Homo sapiens: one gene and its partners. The protein of the gene in region 3 purifies or fractionates together with the protein of the main gene of each other region. This does not show direct contact. Each region holds a gene or a part of one and is shown on either strand. Other genes may lie near its edges.

What was found.
Region 1: the proteins of SEMA4A (region 3) and TMEM192 purify together in Homo sapiens (affinity purification with mass spectrometry; one large-scale study listed by BioGRID and IntAct). This does not show direct contact.
Region 2: the proteins of SEMA4A (region 3) and SIRT5 purify together in Homo sapiens (affinity purification with mass spectrometry; one large-scale study listed by BioGRID and IntAct). This does not show direct contact.
Region 4: the proteins of SEMA4A (region 3) and LEMD3 purify together in Homo sapiens (affinity purification with mass spectrometry; one large-scale study listed by BioGRID and IntAct). This does not show direct contact.

Annotation. Positions count from the first base shown.
Region 1 is NC_000004.12:165,084,739-165,089,422, forward strand, and holds part of TMEM192 (transmembrane protein 192), read right to left. Parts: intron 3,865-4,684; coding exon 3,730-3,864; intron 951-3,729; coding exon 848-950; intron 1-847.
Region 2 is NC_000006.12:13,594,437-13,599,120, reverse strand, and holds part of SIRT5 (NAD-dependent protein deacylase sirtuin-5, mitochondrial), read right to left. Parts: intron 3,645-4,684; coding exon 3,557-3,644; intron 2,159-3,556; coding exon 2,105-2,158; intron 1,394-2,104; exon of another isoform or gene 1,257-1,393; intron 92-1,256; exon of another isoform or gene 90-91; coding exon 1-89. UniProt on the Homo sapiens protein: NAD-dependent lysine demalonylase, desuccinylase and deglutarylase that specifically removes malonyl, succinyl and glutaryl groups on target proteins.
Region 3 is NC_000001.11:156,152,250-156,156,384, reverse strand, and holds the start of SEMA4A (semaphorin-4A isoform 1 precursor), read right to left. Parts: upstream 2,801-4,135; 5' UTR 2,621-2,800; intron 1,838-2,620; exon of another isoform or gene 1,836-1,837; 5' UTR 1,807-1,835; coding exon 1,668-1,806; intron 1-1,667. UniProt on the Homo sapiens protein: Cell surface receptor for PLXNB1, PLXNB2, PLXNB3 and PLXND1 that plays an important role in cell-cell signaling. Regulates glutamatergic and GABAergic synapse development.
Region 4 is NC_000012.12:65,217,421-65,222,104, reverse strand, and holds part of LEMD3 (inner nuclear membrane protein Man1), read right to left. Parts: intron 3,554-4,684; coding exon 3,486-3,553; intron 1-3,485.

The DNA of each region.
Region 1 (4,684 bases), on a different chromosome or scaffold from region 3:
TCGCTACTAAAAATACAAAAATTAGCTGGGCATGTATAGTTTTTTACATCTACTTTAGCCCCAAGATCTCCAACAGATATGAATGATATTTTAATTACCATGGAAGTCACTTAGGGAGAGACTGGATAGAAACAAGGGTGGGCAGACCGGGCTGGCTGTTTGGGAGGCTGAAATGGGAGGATTGCTTGAGCCCAGGAGTTTGAGGCCAGCCTGGGCAATACAGAGAGACTCTATCCCTTAAAAAGAAAATAACAGGCCGGGCGAGGTGGCTCACGCCTGTGATCCCAGCACTTTGGGAGGCTGAGGCGGGCGGATCACCTGAGGTCAGGAGTTCAAGACCAGCCTGACCAACATGGAGAAACCCCATCTCTACTAAAAATACAAAATTAGCCAAGCGTGGTGGTGCATGCCTGTAATCCCAGCTACTGGGAGGCTGAGGCAGGAGAATCGCTTGAAACTGGGAGGTGGAGACTACGGTGAGCCAAGATCATGCCACTGCACTCCAGCCTGGGCAACAAGAGCAAAACTCCATCTCAAAAAAAAAAAAAAAAAAAAGACACCTATAAAAAAAGGTGCTTCAAGGAGGGAGTAACCAGTTAATGATGTCAAAAGCTCTTGAGAGGTTAAATAGGTTGGCTAAGTGGTTAATTTTTTGCATCAAATATATGGCCTATTTAATACATTTACACATCCTGATTTAGACTTGATTTCACCACAGCTGAAAGGAAATAAACAAATCAAACAAATGTAAAAGTACAAATACACAATCATAAATTCCAAGCATCAGAATGGTTTCTAGCTTTCTAGGGGAAAAAACTCAATTATTTTATTCTCACCTAAATCTTACCTGAATCCAGTCTCCGAGGTAATATTGCTGGGGTAAGCATAGATTTTTTCTTCTTCAAGTATATCAGGCTCTGGTTTAGCTTTATTAAATCTCCGGATTTTCACTAAAATAATAAAGTCATTATTAGATCGAATTCTGAAAGACAAGTCTAGTTTCATTTTTTCAAATTATGCTAATTTGCCGTTCTTATTAACGTCCTTGAGTATTTCAAATTCTACTATGTGCCAGGCCTGTTCTAAGCCCTGGGAATATAGGGATTACATTAGTATTGAAATAGCAATAATAGCTGACATTTATTGTGCACTTAGAACACATGAGGCACAGTTTAAATGTTTTACATGGATGCCCTCATTCAGTTCTCATAAACACCTGCATGAAGTGGATGCTCCTATTACCCCGCAGTGAAGCCCAGAGAAGTTGAGCAACCAGCCAGCCATCTAATTCAGAAATCATGACTTCCTCTGGTCCAGGGGAAAATACAGATAATAATCCTACATTCTAAGACAGTATGGAAAGTACCTTCAATAGAAGCTTGTGCAAGAGGCTTGCACAAGGAGTTGTCAAGCTGCTTTTTGGCCTGGAAAGCAGTGCCTAACTCAACAGGAGGTATCAGAGAGGGGAAAAGAGGATAGAGTTTGAGCCCAGGAATTAATCACACAGACTAGGAGAATAAAGAAGGGTGCTTCAGGTGCAGGAGGAGTCTGAACAAATGCTATGGTCTTGAGAAGCTACACGTATGTATGGGTGTGAGGGTGTATGGACAAGGGGTGGGTTGGGAAGATAGGCAGAGAATGCATCAGGAGTGGCTGGTGTGTCATGCAAGGCATTTACACTTTTTTTTTTTTTTTTTTTGAGACGGAGTCTTGCTCTGTCGCTCAGGCTGGAGTGCAGTGGCACAACCTTGGCTCACTGCAACCTCTGTCTCTGCCTCCTAGGTTCAAGCAATTCTCCCACCTCAGCCTCCCGACTGGGATTACAGGCGTGCACCACCACACCCAGCTAATTTTTTTTGTATTTTCAGTAGAGACGGTGTTTCACCATGTTGGCCAGGCTGTTCTCAAACTCCTGGCCTCAAGTGATCCACCCGCTGAGGCCTCCCAAAGTGCTGGGATTACAGGCGTGAGTCACCAGGCCCGGCCTAAGACATTTAGATTTTATCCTCAGAGCAACTGGCAGTCTTTGAAAGGATCTCACCATCATCCCTGAAGAGCAGGCTAGGTAGAGGCCATTCAAGGAGAACCTTTCAGGCTGGGCATGGTGGCTCATGTCTGTAATCCCAGCACTTTGGGAGGCCGAGGCGGATAGATGACCTGACATCCGGAGTTTGAGACCAGCCTGGCGAACATGATGAGATGCTGTCTTTACTAAAAACACAAAAATTAGCTGGGTGTGGTGGTAGGCGCCTATAATCCCAGCCACTCAGGAGGCTGAGGCAGGAGAATCGCTTAAACCCAGGAGGCGGAGGTTGCAGTAAGCTGAGATCACGCCATTGCACTCCAGCCTGGGTGACGAGAGTGAAACTCCAACTCAAAAAAAAAATAAAGAAAATGCCTTTTATGCCACATGAAAACGTTAGATTTTTTTTCCTTCAGCTATTAGAAAACTCTGGGCAGGGAAGCTGTTAACAATCAGAGTTAAGTATAAACAAGATCATGTTGGCAGGAATAAGAAATATGAATCAGTGGACAGAGGGAAAGAGACCTGTTATGTGTCTCCTGGATGTAGCCATGCAAGAGATGATGAGTACCTAACCAAGGCAGTGGCAGGGACCAAAGAAAAGAGACAGAGCTGAAAGACAGGTAGACTGAATAAGACTGATGACTGACTGATCACCAATCCTATCCAGTTCTTGGGGAGTGAGGTAGAAGGAAGAAGGTAGATGACTCCTACGTTTCTAGGATTCTGATTTATCAAGTGGATGCAGGCTGGTATTGTTAACTGAGCTAGAAGAGGACGGTTAGGATGGAGGGAAATTTTGAAGAAAATTATGTTCTGTTCACTTCTGATCTTGTTGGTGCCTGTGGGACATGTGGATGAAAACTTCATTAAGCAGATGAATATATACAATTTGGGGCTGGGTGCGGTGGGTCATGCCTGTAATCCCAGCACTTTGGGAGGCCAAGGCGGGCGGATCACCTGAGGTCAGGAGTTAGAGACCATCCTGGCCAACATGACGAAACCCCATCTCTATTAAAGTGCTAGCCTCCTAAAGTGCTAGGATTACAGACATGAGCCACTGTGCCTGGCCTATTTCTTAATTTTTAATTTTAAATGCAAGCTGACATTTCAGCTGCCTTCAGAGAAGCAAAAGTTTGTGGATGTTTTTGTTGTTGTTGTTTTAGGAGACAGGGTCTTACTCTGTCACCCAGGCTGGAGTGCAGGCATGTGATCTTGGCTCACTGCAACCTCTGTCTCCCAGGCTCTAGTGATCCTCCCACGTCAGCCTCCTGAGGGGCTGGGACCACATTTGTGCACCACCATACCTGGCTAATTTTTTGTATTTTTTGTAGAGATGGAGTTTCATCATGTTGTCCAGGCTGGTCTTGAATTCCAGAGCTCAAGTGATCCTTCTGCCTCATCCTCCCAAAGAGCTGGGATTACAGGCTTGAGCCACCATTCCCAGCCCAAAAAGTTTGTGTCTTGTTTTAATGGAAAAGTTTCACTTGCATTAACAAAAATTTATTAATGACACAATCTTAAAAGAATGGGGTCTCACTGGTGGTGGCTGTACCTTCCTGTTGGTTTGAAATTAAAGAAGTCTGCATGTGGTCACCACTCAGATACACAGAGAACTTCCTTGTCGCTAATGGGCTATACTTTAAACTGGGAGGAAAGGAAGCAGTTCGAAGTTCCTATAAGAACAGGCTCGTTGTAATTCTCACCTGTGTAAATGAGGAGACATATCAGGGAACAGATGAGTTCCAGTGCCAAGATGGCCAGAATGAGGTCAAGATACAATCTGCCAGGCTCTGGGAAGGAGTGCTGCATGCACAGTATGAGGAGAAGCACTGTGTTGCCTGAGGAGGAGAAACATAAAACACAGCATGTGATGAGAAATACATATATGGTCTTTGTCCAATAGATAGTTGGTCTTTGTCTGGTTCCTTACACAGAGCTCCTAAAACACTTGTAATTTCCTGAGTGATCAGAGCCTTCAGAAATGAAGACCCAGGCCAGGTGCAGTGGCTCACACCTGTAATGTCAGCATTTTGGGAAGTCAAGACAAGAGGATTGCTTGAGCCCAGGTGGTCGAGACCAGCTTAGGCAACATAGCAAGACCCCATCTCTATAAAAAAATATAAAAAATTAGCCAGGCATGGTGGCACACATCTGTAGTTCCAGCTACCTGGGAGGCTAAGGTGGGAGGATTGCTTGAGCCTGGGAGGTTGAGGCTGCAGTGAGCTGAGGTCGTGTCACTGCACTCCAGCCTGGGCAACAGAGCAAGACCCTACTGCAAAAAAAAAAAAAAAAAAAAAAAAAAGGAAAAGAAATGAAAGACCCAGAGAAAACTATTCTTATGCTTAGGTTTGATGAAGAATGGACAGCCATGTAGAAATGTGAGTGGACAAAGTATGATCTACTGGGAATAGACTGAAGGGGCAAACCCAGCAAGACCTGTCTATTCAGGTTCTTCTCGGCCTCTCTGTGTAGACTCCTCACCCCCAACCCTCCTGCCATATAGGGCAGGACCCCTCTGAAATAAGGGTCTTCAAGGGAAAAGGGTAAAGGGAGAAAGGGTTCTCTTTTTTTTTGGAGACGGAGTCTCACTCTGTCGCCCAGGCTGGAGTGCAGTGGCGCTATCTCGGCTCACTGCAAGCTCCACCTCCCAGGTTTCAC
Region 2 (4,684 bases), on a different chromosome or scaffold from region 3:
CAACCTCCTCCAGAATGGCAGGATCCAGGTTTTCTCCAAACCACACGACGTGAGGTCGCAGCAAGCCCCCGCAGCCTGCCTCTTCACACCTGGAAGAATGGGATCCTTAAGCCAACCCCGAGCCAAGTCTGCCCAGCTGGATCGGAGGGAGGCCAGGGGCTGCCCCAAACCTAGTACATCCAGATGGGTCACCTCTGATGCCTCTTATTCCCTACACCCTCCCTCCCAGCCTATATAAACTTGCCTTGCTTATGAAGCATCAGGTTTAATGGTCTTTTTTTTTTTTTTTTTTTTTGAGACGGAGTCTCACTCTGCTGCCCAGGCGGAAGTGCAATGCCATGGTCTCCGCTCACTGCAACCTCTGCCTCCCAGGTTCAAGCAATTCTGCCTCAGCCTCCCGAGCAGCTGGGACTACAGTCATGTGTGACCACACCCAGCTAATTTTCGTATTCTTAGTAGAGACATGTTTCACCACATTCGCCGGGCTGGTCTCAAACTGCTGACCTCAGGTGATCTGCCCTCCTCGGCCTCCCAAAGTGCTGGGATTACAGGCATGAGCCACCGCGCCCTGCAGAACTGTCCTTATTTTTTATCTTGTCTGTATGTACTTGATGTGCTGACACATTGTTTCAGCTAAGCTTTCCCAGTTCATTCATTATGCTCACATTTGTGCTCACAGCCACCCAGACCTGGGAGACATACTGGACTCAGATTTGCCTCCCACCCCAAGCATCCCCTAATTTCATCAATGACCTCCTTTCATGTTCTCTCAGGTTCATGTCTCTCTGGCCCAGTATGTAGCCAGCTTTCCTGTGTCCATTACTAAAAATCTCTCTTCTTTCACTCCCTCCTACCTCAGGGTTACCTTCTATACACCTCCTAAAACCATCCCCCAAACACCATTTTCATCATAGTAATCTCCTGCATCACAGGAATCCTCCAGGTCTACCTATTCCTTCAGAAGAAAACTTTTAATATTTAGCAATTAAAACCCTCATGAGGAAAATTTAAAAGGTTCTGTGGTTAAATAAGCCAGTAAAGCATTAACATACGTATTACAACCACTTTTTAGAAGGCAGCAATGTGGATTAAATGCTCTAAAAAGTCCTGCAGTAAAGCAAACATATTTTAACTTTGTTTAGTCTAACATTTCCATATTTATTTGAGTGCCTAACATGTTTTTTTCAAGTAATGTCTCAACGTAACATTAAATTAATGTTCTATGAAACACTTTTAGAAGTGCTGTTTTATTTTACCTTAAAAACACTCTAATCCAGCCGGGTGCAGTGGTTCACGCCTGTAATCCCAGCATGTTGGGAGGCTGAGGCGGGTGGATCATCTGAGGTCAAGAGCTCGAGACCAGCCTGGCCAACATGGCGAAACCTCATCCCTGCTAAAAACACAAAAAATAGCCAGGCGTGGTGGCGGGCGCCTATAATCCCAGCTACTCGGGAGGCTGAGGCAGAAGAATCACTTCAACCCAGGAGGTGGAGGTTGCAGTGAGCCAAGATCGTACCATTGCACTCCAGCCTGGGTGACAGAGTGAGATTCCATCTCAAAAAAAAATAAAATAAAATAAACACAACAAAAAAACTTCTAATCCAATTACAGGTTATAGAAGTGCTGTTTTAATGCCTGGTTTTGAAAAATTGGCATAAAAATCTTCCTTTTTTTTTTTTTTTTTTTTAATCTATGAACATTCTGTTTGGTCCTGTAACCTCTCCTATTCAGGTCCTTTCATTGCCTCCCTAACCCTGGATTAATAATGCCAGTGATGTTATTTGACCAGTTACAGGTCAGCCCCTATGCTTTCTGTACACTGGGTAACCACCTGTCGCACGACAGCTTCAGAAACTTTCCCGACCTCAAATGATCCTACCACAACACAAAGCAAAAAGAGGTTGGAAAAAAATCATTCTTTTCATCCTAATTTGGTTCATCCTTTGTCCTTTCACTTTTGGTCTCAGAGATCAAGCCTGGTTTTTACATTTGTGCATTTGATTTAAGAGGCGTCTTGCCAAATACATGTTTAGGTTTTGATGTCTGTTTTTTTTTTTGTTTTGGTAACCTGGAACACCAGTACAAATCAGAGTTTTCTACCTACCGGGGAAGTTTCTCAACTGGGATGCTGGCATCTTGAGTTCCAGGTTCTGGAGCACTGAAGTAAATAATATTAGAAAAGAAAGATTGTTATTGGCATAATAAAAAATAAAGAAACAACATAACTCAGTTTGTATATTTGCCTGGCAGTATGTGGTATAAAACTCCTAATTAATACATGCTCACTTGGAAGGGCATTAGAAGGAAGGACCCCAAGCCATTAATTACCAGTGGTGCTGGGCACAGTGGCTCATGCCTGTAATCCCAGCATTTGGTGAGGCCAAAGTGGGAGGACTGCTTGAGGCCAGAAGTTCAAGACAACCCTCGGCAATACAGTAAGACTGCATTTCTACCAGAAATACAAAAATTAGCTGAGTGTGGTGATGTGTGCCTATAGTCCTAGCTACTTGGGAGGCTGAGGCAGGAGGATTGCTCGAGCCCAGGAGTTGGAGGCTGCAGTAAGGTGTGATTGTGCCACTGTACTCCAGCCTGGGAAACAGAGCAAGAACCTGTCTCAGAAAAAAAAAAATCACCAGTGGTTGTACTGCCAGTGAGGGAATGCATGTGTGGGGAGGGCTGGAGTGGCTGGGTGTGCCAAGGGGGAACTTCATGTTTACCTTTATACATCATCATCATCATCATTTGTATCCTCTGCAATGACATTATATAGTCCTTATACAATTTATACTGTTTTTAAAAGGCTGAGTGGAATTTTTCTCAATATTGTGTCTACCCTCAAATTTTTTCCTCATTGTAATAATAGTACATGTTCATAATAGAAATATAGGAAAATTCAGAAAGATATAAAGAAGAAATTAAAAATTACCCATAATCCCTCCACTCCTGATATTCCTTATTAACATTTTGTTGTATTTTCTTCTGGTCTTTTAACTATATACAGATACACGAACTCATTGTGTGTACAAATTTAGGACCCTGTGGTTTTCACTTAACACTGTAAGTTGTGAGCAAAATATTTCTTTTATCACATGGCTATATTTAGTTTTTTTGTTTGTTTGTTTGTTTTTTGAGACAGGGTCTCCCTCTGTCACCCAGGCTGTAGTGCAGTGGCATGATCTCAGCTCACTGCAGCCTTGACTTCCCAGGCTCAAATAACCCTCCCACCTCAGCCTCCCTAGTAGCTGGGACTACAGGCATGTGCCACCACACCCAGCTAATTTTTGTGGTTTTTTGTTTTGTTTTGTTTTTTTGTAGGACAGGTTTCTCACTGTGTTGCCCAGGCTGGTCTTGAACTCCTGAACTCAAGCAGTCTCCCCACCTTGTAACCCCAAAGTGCTGGGATTACAGGCATGAGCCACTGCACCCAGCCTTGTATTTAGTCTTATTTCTCATAAATATCCATGGGAATCTTTGATGAATGTTCAATTTCCTCACATTTATGTTCAACCTAAAGGAGAAAACAACCTATACTTATTCTGTAGTGTGGTATAATTACCCTTTTCCTGATAAAGCTGGACAAATTGGACTCTTGTAATTCTCAGCCACAACTCCACAAGAGGTACATCGAGTTTTAAATAAGCTACCTGAAAAATACATATGAAGCAAATCCAGAATTTAGTATAATCAAGAGCAACCTTCTCCATGTCTAAAAGGGTATAAGATACTTTATTTTTCACACTTCATTTCATGTTTTGGTCTCACCCAGTTACCCAGGCTGGAGTGTAGCAGTACGATCATAGCTCACTGCAGCTTCCAACTCATGGGCTCAAGCGATCCTCCCACCTTTGCCTCCTGAGCAGCTGGGACTATAGGTGTGCACCGCCACACTGAGCCATACTTCATTTTAGCAAATGGGCCTACCCTAGCTTTAGCTTTCATGGGAAACAGAGGCATGCAGTACTCTTAAGCCAGTCAAGAGCATATGCCCTCAAGGACTTTATAATCTGGAGGAAAAATAAATAACTCCATGACTAATGTGCCATCAGATGACCTTGGAGTGGTGTTCAAGTGGGCAGAAGTTGCCAATAGGGTAGAGGGAGCTCAACCTAAATCTAAGGGCGTGATTTATTGACATGACTGACAAAGGTTCAATGGCGTGGGATATGTTTACAAAATTTTAACTTCGATTTCAGAAAGCTTGAATCTTTTATACAAAAGCACCTCAATAAATAAGTAATCAACTAATAAGTGAAAAAAGTAATTGTTAATACTAACCACCACTTATTGAGCTGAAGCAATCATGGTGGCCACAGTTTATGAAATGGGTACCAGGCAACTGGTGCCGTGCAGAGCACTTTCAACCCTAGTGGACATGCGCTGCTCCGTCCTGCCCACCAGTCCTTCCTTGGGGAGCACCATCCCTGCTCTCTCGCATGCTGAGCCAATAGGGCTGTGGGTCACATCCCAAATACAAGCTCAGCCACATGCTGCGCACGGCCCCCATGTGGTGTCCATCCCTCTGCAGTCGTGTTTGGTCAGAAGGGTGGGCGTGTGGACCAAGCAAGCCTACCCAGAGGTTTATTTTCTGAGCAGGTGGCTGAGCTGGAGCCGTCGGAGGCACTCTCCCTTGGCGCGTGGAGACAGATCAATTGCAGAGAGAGAAGGGAGGCCACCTCAAAGAGTG
Region 3 (4,135 bases):
TGAGGACTTGGTGGGCAGGCAGCTGACTCCTGAGATAAAAGTGGGGGAAGGGGAAGGGTTGCCTGAGTGTGCTCCCCAGGCCTTGGCAGCTAGATGCACTCTCCTCCACCAGCAGTTCTTCCCTTCACCCCACCCCAACACAAGAGCGTTGTGTGCTGAGCCCGCAGTAGAGAGGAGAGGCAGCCAGAGGCAGGGTAATGGGGACGGGAAATAAAGTGAGGCACAGTGGATGCTCTTCCAGGCCTGGGACAGGGAGGGCTACCGTCGGGGAGGACGCCTTGGTCCTCACTAGGATGAGGAGCAGCAGGCAGACAGACAAACAGGAAAGTGTTGGCAGCCACAAGCAGCAAAGCTATATGCAGACAGGAGGGCGTATGTCAGAGTCCCTCTCGCCATCCCCCCAACCACCCCTGCTTTCTTCCTCTTCTGTTAAAGGAAATTCCCACCAGTAGAGTCACCACGAACAGAGAGGAAGCATTTTTCTTCAAAGATCCATGTGGGCATGGCTGGATGTCCCCTGGGCAGGGATGGTGAGCCAGGTGTGGGAGGCTCACCTAGGTCCTCTCCATGACCTTGGCATGGTGGGGTGGGTGGGGGTGTATTTTCCTGTCCCACTGGCACATCGGCAAGGAGGAAGGAGCTCCTCAGATCCTCTCTCATTAGCACTTGCACTGTTGCATTAGTTAGAAAGCTGACTAGCTAATTGATACCTTTGCAGGCTCAGGGAATCTTACACAGTACAGAGGGGAGAAGTTGGGGAATCTGGTGTGGCTGCGGGATGGAAGGGCCAGCCTCAGGGAGGAGCATCTCCTGGAGGCCAGGCCTCCCCCAGAGCTGCCATAAACCCCTCAGTTGCTGAACAGATCACCCTGTATTGATGGTCTGATTGCTCATGTCTTCCCCCTTGTGACTGTGAACACCTTGAGGGCAGGGGCTGAGGCTTATCCGTGTTTGTGCGCCCAGCATCCAACACAGAGGAGGTCTCTGCATCAATGAGCAATATACATTTCTTTTACCAATTGCCCCAGAAAGATGCTAAAGACACAGCCATGCCCAGTCACCTACAACTCCTACAGTGTCTACATCCTTTCCTGAGTCTTCTCCCTGGAGGTGAGGGGGCCAGCAGCCTCCACAGTCTCAGTAAGAAACCAGCCAAGCTGTGCTTGTGTGTGGGTTCCAGGGCCCATTCTCCAACCAGCCATCCCATGGTCCTGGACATGGTATGGTCCAGCATGATCTATGTGGTTGGCATGGGCCTGGCGAGCTCCGGGTCACCGGGTCCACATATGGTCTTCTAGCATGGGCCTTGACTTTGGGGTACCTGGGAGTGTGAAGCAGTTAGGAGTTTGAGGTGCCCAGCTTGGTGACAGTGATATTTAAGGAAGGAAAGAAAAATTACCAACATGGAGAACTGGAAGAAGCGTGCCCCTGGCCCCGTGGCCACCTGTTTTCCTCAATCTGCTCTCCAGTGGCTTTTCTTTCCTTTTGGACTTCTGTTTCTGGCTGTGTCTCTCTTTCTCCGAGATCCTCTGTTTCTCCCTGGCATCTCTCTCTGTGTCCCTGTTTCTCCATATCCATTTCCTCCCCTCCTCTGTTCCTCTCTCCTTCCTCCACCCACCTCCAGCTCTCTATTGCTATCCCCACACTTCCTGCTGTCGGACACTTACCTGCATAGTATCTGACCCTGGGCATGGGCCCCTGCCCGCCTCCCCCCGCGGTCGTCGTCGGCAGCAGCAGCTGAAGCAGTTGGAAGAGGAAAAGGCCCAGGAGGCTCCAGGGGTCCAGGCCCAGGGCTGGGAGGGCCATGCTCAGCCACAGACTGTCACCAGGGAGCTCTGGGGAAACAGGCACCCGGGCACTTTCTGGGTGAGCAGTTCTTACCACATCCCCCCGAGGACCAATAGGAGAGCCCCAGGCAGCAGAAGCGTGTGTATTGGTGGCAGGGGTGGGGCATTGGGGCAGAGAAGGTTCCCTATCTGGAAGGGCCCTAAGACGGTCTCACTTTCATCATCCTTCCAGGCCTCAGCCTGTCACCTCACTGTCCCCTATGGGTAGGAGCCCAGGTCTCCCCTATCCTGCTTCTTCTGTTGTCTTCTCACCAACAGCTCTGGTTTGCCTTTTTTTGCCTTACTCTCAGGAAGTCTTTCCTGTCTTTCCTCCTTTGCCTTCCCTCTTCTCATAGCCCAAGCCCAAACCGTTGCCTGGCTCTGGGCAGGGAACATTTTGGGGAGCAGGTTCCTGTACCCAAAATATAAATTCCTCAGACCTTACTCTCCTGTCACTTTCAGATCTGTTGACACCTGTGCCTCATACTCAGCTCTGACCCAGGTAGGCAGACTGGGTTTGAGTCTGCCTGCTCTAACCTCTCCCCCAGCCCCAGCTGGGTTCAGGGTCTTTGAGGCTCAGGCCTGCCTGGCCTGATACTTCCAGGGAGGCAATGAGGGTCCATCCCACCAGGTTGGTTATCAGCATTTCCCGGGGAGCTGCCTGGGCAGGGGTGGCTGGCCGGCTCCCAGCCTCTGCAGCTCCCCGGCCCCCTTGTCTCTTGCTCCTGTGTCTGCCTCCCTGGGCCTCTACATAATCTTCCCCAAGACCACCCACCCCAAGCCACCCATCTCACCTCACATACCCTTGAACCAGCCACAGTGGGAAACTCGGTGTCTGGATTCTAGGGCGGGGGTGCCATTCAGGAGAAAGAAGAAGGGGGGTTCCCAGGCCCCAGAGGCAGGGGACAGAAGGCTCAGCCTGGCTGGAACGGGAGTGCGGCCCTCCAGGTGCCCATCATGCCAAAGCCAGCACTGGGAGCTCTAGGCCAGGGAAACCGGAATTTCCACCTCTCGAGTTGTGACAGATCCTGGCTTGGGCGGAAGTTGGTGGATTGGGAGGGAATAAAAAGACGTTCACCCACCTCACAAGAGACACACCTCTCTCTCCCTCCTCTGCTCGGTCCAACCAGAAAGTTTAAGAGGCCCTTCTAGGTCATTTCAGCGATTCCCCTGCCTCTCCATCATGTCACAGCCAGTATAACCAGCCTAGCAGTGGTTTCTTCTCTTGCTTAAGATTTCCCAGATAGGGGACATGACATATTCTTCTTTTCACTTACCCACAAGGTGGGGTCTCTCTACTCCTACCTACTGGGAAGTCCCTGCAGTGGTCTAACCTTTAAACCTCCCACTCTCAGCTGGGCCACAGTCTTTAAAAAAATAAAATAAAATAATTGTATTAGGCTCTTATCCATGATTTTGCTGAGGAAGTCCCCCTTGCAGTCTAATCTCCATCACTCTTTGACATCAGGCCAATAGGAAGCCCAGAAATCAGGCCAGTAGAAAGCCCAGAACATTTCCCATCTGAACTCGTGCTCACTGGACCACACTTTGGAGGCACCCAACCCCCAAAGGTGGCTGCTCACCCCTCCCTAAAGGCTCCAGGGGGAGCCTCATAACGCGGGGTTAATGAGGCATCCAGCGCCAAGAACTCTGTGGCCTACAAAGTGGGTAGGTTCCTGCCCACTCGACATGGTCAGCTGACTGCAGGTTAAAGAGCACAGACATCCCAGGGCTAATCCAACTCTAATAAATAATCCACTTCCATCTGACATGCACATTCCTCCCTGGCAGGAAGTCCTTCCTGTAGTGTAACTTCCATCCCTCCTGCTACAGCACCAGCCAACATGGGGGATGTTACAGCTCAGGCTACTCCTTATAATTCCTCATCTGAGGTACTCAGCCTTCTTTCATCTCTCTCAGTTTCCCCGGGGGTTGGTCTCAGACATATCCTGCCTGACAATCGTTTCTGTCAAGACTTGCCTAGGACTCCCCCAGACTCTCCCAGAGGCTGGTTGCCAGGTCCCTTCCAGTTTCTTAGAATCAAGAGAAACTCCCATTTATCCAGACCCTACCTTCTGTGTCTCCCCAACCCCCAGCTCAGATTTGGGAAGCCAGTCTGCCCCTGGGCCTCTCTGCTTAAACAGATTGGCTCATTTGGGTCACTGGGAAGAGTTCTGATACGGGGAGGCTGGGGGAGTTCCAGCCCTACACTCCCAGCCTGATGTCCTATTCCCACCTTTCTGGAAGTCATAGACTCCATGCCCTGCCCCCAGTTCTTCCTCCAGACATCCAGAATTCTCCCAACTCCG
Region 4 (4,684 bases), on a different chromosome or scaffold from region 3:
GCCATACATGGAAACCCTTAGCTAATATCATACTCAATGGTGACAAACTGAAAGATTTTCCTGGCCAGGCATGGTGGCTCACACTTATAATCCCAGCACTTTGGGAGGCCGAGGTGGGTGGATCACGTGAGGTCAGGAGTTCGAGACCAGCCTGGCCAACATGGTGAAACCCCATCTCTACTAACAATACAAAAAAATTAGCCAGGTGTGGTGGCACACACCTGTAATCCCATCTACTCAGGAAGCTGAGACATGTGAATCGCTTGAGCCCAGGAGGTGGAGGTTGTATTGAGCAGAGATCACACCACTGCACTCCAGCCTGGGCGACAGAGTGAGACTCTGTCTCAAGGAAAAAAAAAAAAAAAAAAGAGAGATTTTCCTCTAAGATCAGGAAGAAGGCCAGGGTGGCTATTTTTCCCATCTCTATCTCTCATAGCACTAGACATCCTAGCCAAAGCAATTAGATAAGAAAAAGAAATAAAAAACATCCAAATCAGAAAGAAGTAAATTTATCTCTCTTAGCAAGTGACATAATCTTATACATAGAAAGCCCTAAAGATTTCACCAAAAAAATCTTGTTATTTGGCTGGGTGTGGTGGCTCATGCTTGTAATCCGTGCTTTAGGAGGCCAAGGCAGGAGGATAACTTGAGCCCAGGAGTTTGAGACCAGCCTGGGCAACATAGCAAGGCCCCTATCTCTACTAAAAAGAATCTTGTTAGAATAAACAAATTCAGCTAAGTTGGAAGATATAAAATCAATATACAAAAATCAGTTACATTTCTATACACTAACAACAATCTGAAAAGGAGGTTAAGAAAATAATCCCATTTATAATAGCATTAGAAAGATTTAGATACTTAGGAATAAACTTAACCAGGGAGGTGAAAGACTTATACACTGAAAACTACAAAAAAAAAAAAAAAAGCTGAATGAAATAAAAGACACAAATAAATAGAAAGACATCTCATGTTCGTGAATTGGAAGACTTAATATTACTCAAATTACTATACCACCGAAGGCAATACAGCAATACAAAATCCCAATAGCATTTTTTGCAGAAATAGAAGACATAATCCTAATATCCATATGGAACCACAAAGGCCTCACACTGACTTTAAAACATATGACAAAACTATAGTAATCAAAACAGTATAGTACTAGCATAATAATAGACATAAATGGACCAGTGGAACAAAATAGAGAACCAGAAATAAAGCCACTGATGTATGATCCAACAATCTTCTACAAGGGTGCCAGACTACACAATGGAGAAATGACAATCTCTTCAATAAATGGTGCTAGGAAAACTGGATTTCCACATGCAACAGAATCAAACTGGACCTTTATCTTATACCGTACACAAAAATCAACTCCAAATGGATTAAAGACTTAAATGTAAGACCTGAAACTATATAACTTCTTGAAGAAAACATAGAAGAAAAGCTTCTTGACGTTGATATGGGCAATAATTTCTTGGACATGACACCAAAAGCATAGGCAACAAAAGCAAAAACAGAAAAGTGGGACTACATCAAACTAAAAAGCATATGTGCAGTAAAAAAAAACAGTGAATACAGTGAAAAAGTAACCTACAGAATGGGAGAAAATATTTGCAAACCATATATCTGACAAGGGGTTAATATGCAAAATGCATAAGAAACCCCCACAATTCAATAACAAAATAAATAACCCAACTTAAAAATCAGCAAAGAACTTGAATAGCACTTCTCCAAAGAAGATATACAAATGGCCAACAGATAAGGTATTATATATATGCTGTATACATGCTATATATACACACAGATGTATATGTATATAAATGGTATATGAAAAGATGCTCAACATCAGTAATCATCAGGGAAACACAAATAAAAACACAGTGAGCTATAAGGCAAATAAGTGTTAAGGATAGGCAGAAACTGGAATCCTACTATACTATTGGAAAGAATGTAAAATGGTACAGTCAATATGAAAACAGTATGGAGGTTCCTCAAAAAATAAAAAGTTGAACTACCATATTATCTATCAATCCCACTTCTAGGTATTTGTCTAACAGAATTAAAAGTAGAGTCTCAAAGAAGTACTTGCATTGCCATGTTCATTGATGAATTATTCACAATAGCCAAGAGGTGGAAACAATCTAAAAGCCCATCAACATGACTGGATAAAGAAAATATATGTATACATACAATGAAATTCTACTCAGCCTTAAAAAATGAAGGAAGTACTGTCATGTTACAATATGGATGAAACTTGAAGATATTATGCTAGGTGAAATAAGCCAGTCACAGGACAAAAATTGCAGGATTCAACTTATATGAGGTATCTGTTAATCACACTGATGGAGGAAGAAAGTAAAATGGTGGTTGCCAGGGATATGGAGCAGAGGAAAACGGGGGCCTGCTGTGCAATGGCTATAGAGTTTCAGTCATACAAGATGAAGAAGTTCTAGAGATTTGCTGTATAAGAATGCACATATAGTTGTACGGTATACTTAAAAATATGTTAACAGATTTCACGTTATATATTTTTTACCACAATTTTAACAAGGGGATGGGAGGCATGAAATTTGTATGGCATGACTTGTCCACGTTCAAATGCCAGCCACCTTCCAGGGATCAACGTTTCCATTTGCAAGAACTCAGATCTTTATGAAATTATCTTTATGGAACTGGACCGACAACAAGCTTTCCTGTATGGTTTTCAAATGCCACTTTCCACTTCTGAGAAATCAGAATGACATTTATCCATCTTTAATCTTTTACTACCTTTCATTAAGATTTTCCAGAAATTATTTACAGTAGTTTAGAAAATTCAACAGCAAGTTCTCTTAGTATTTGGAGAAGAAACTGATGTGGGACAGAAGATTTTAAATAAATGGTTAGATATTTACCTGCTCTCTTACATGCTACTACTCACCTATCTCAATTTCCCTATGACCAATGTTTCTTTGTACCCTTTCCAAATTAATATGCATTCTCTCATAGAGAATGTTCTAAAACAAACTAAAAAAAATTGAACAGGTGGCTCACGCCTATAATCCCAGCACTTTGGGAGGCCAAGGCATGCAGATCACTTGAGGCCAGGAGTTTGAGACCAGCCTGGCCAACATAGTGAAACTCCATCTCTACTAAAAATACAAAAAACATTAGCTGGGCGAGGTGGTGGGTGCCTGTAATTCCAGCTACTCGCGAGGCTGAGGCAGGAGAATCGCTTGAACCCCGGTTGCGAACGTTGCAGTGAGTCGAGATCAGCCATTGCACTCCAGCCTGGGGAACAAGAGCGAAACTGTGTCTCACAAAAAAAAAAAAAAAAAAAAAGTTGAACAATTTTACTTTCTCATAACTGCTCATATTATACCAAACAGCAGGCCCAAGCTTTTAACAGTACAATTAAAATAATCAAACATATGATTCTTACAAGTAGCAATGATTTATATAATTTTTTAAAATATAGCTATTAAAATTCTAATTTCATTGCTTACTTTTAAATACGCAGCTGCCTCTTGAACAGAAAGCGTTCTTTGACTAGAACTGCCACATTCATGATCTCCTGGAAAGATTAGCATATTATTAATTTTGAATCAGTACTCTCTTAAACAGAAGAAAACAAACATAATTAATTCAAATATTTTATACATTATACAATTACAGGTTATATTATTATAATCAGTAAAGAAAGAACATGAACAATATTATTTATAATTTCTAGAAGAAATTCCAGTAAGAATATAAACAAAGAAATTCCAGTAAGAATATAAACAAACAACTACCATTACATTAACCACAACTTTTAAATGCATTTCAGTCCAAACAAGAACTTATCTTCCTCTTATATTCCCAACTAAACTGTAAGCTGGTATAGGAACTATGTCACACTGATGCCTATCCACAGATCTTGGCACACAAGACGCCCTCCAGAAATATGTATTATTCCTAAAAGGGAAAAAATTCAGCATATTCATTGTGCTAACTTAACTTACACATCTATTCTTAAAGCTAATCATTTAAGGGTTCAAATAAGTTTGAATTTATTAATGAATTAAAGTATGTGCATTTTCAGAGTATAACTAATCCTATCTTTAGCAAGGGGTGTGCATGCCTTAAAAACTGTTATAACATAACCAGGTGTGGTAGTATGCATCTGTTGTCCCAATTATTCGGGAAGCAGAGGCGAGAAGACAGCTTGACTCCATAAATTTGAAGCTGCAGTGAGCTGTGATCACCCTACTTCACTCCAGCCTGAGTGACAGAAAAGATCCTGTCTCAAAAAAATCTTAAAAAACAAAAATTGTTATAACAGACCAACAGGGAAATCAGGTACAAGTTTCCACCTATGATCTGGTTTCTACAAAGGGATGTGCTCATATAAATCTTTGGAAAACTACATTTATCTTTTCTTTTAATTGTTGATAAGAAGCGAATTCAGGGCTTTTTCTTTAGACTATAAGTGGTTATTAGAAATAAATTATCCTCATATTGAACTCCAATTGTCATGTTTTCCCTTCCCTGTGTCTTTCAAGTAGTTAAAAAGCTTGTTAACATGAAAGTAGAATAATTAAAGTAAAATCCTTGCCAAATGTTTCTAAAATAAAAGCAGCCATGTTCTCATTTCAGTTTTGTTCAAGTAATCATTTTAATGTCAGTAGCTATAAAAAGGGGAGAAGTACCTATCAGATGAACA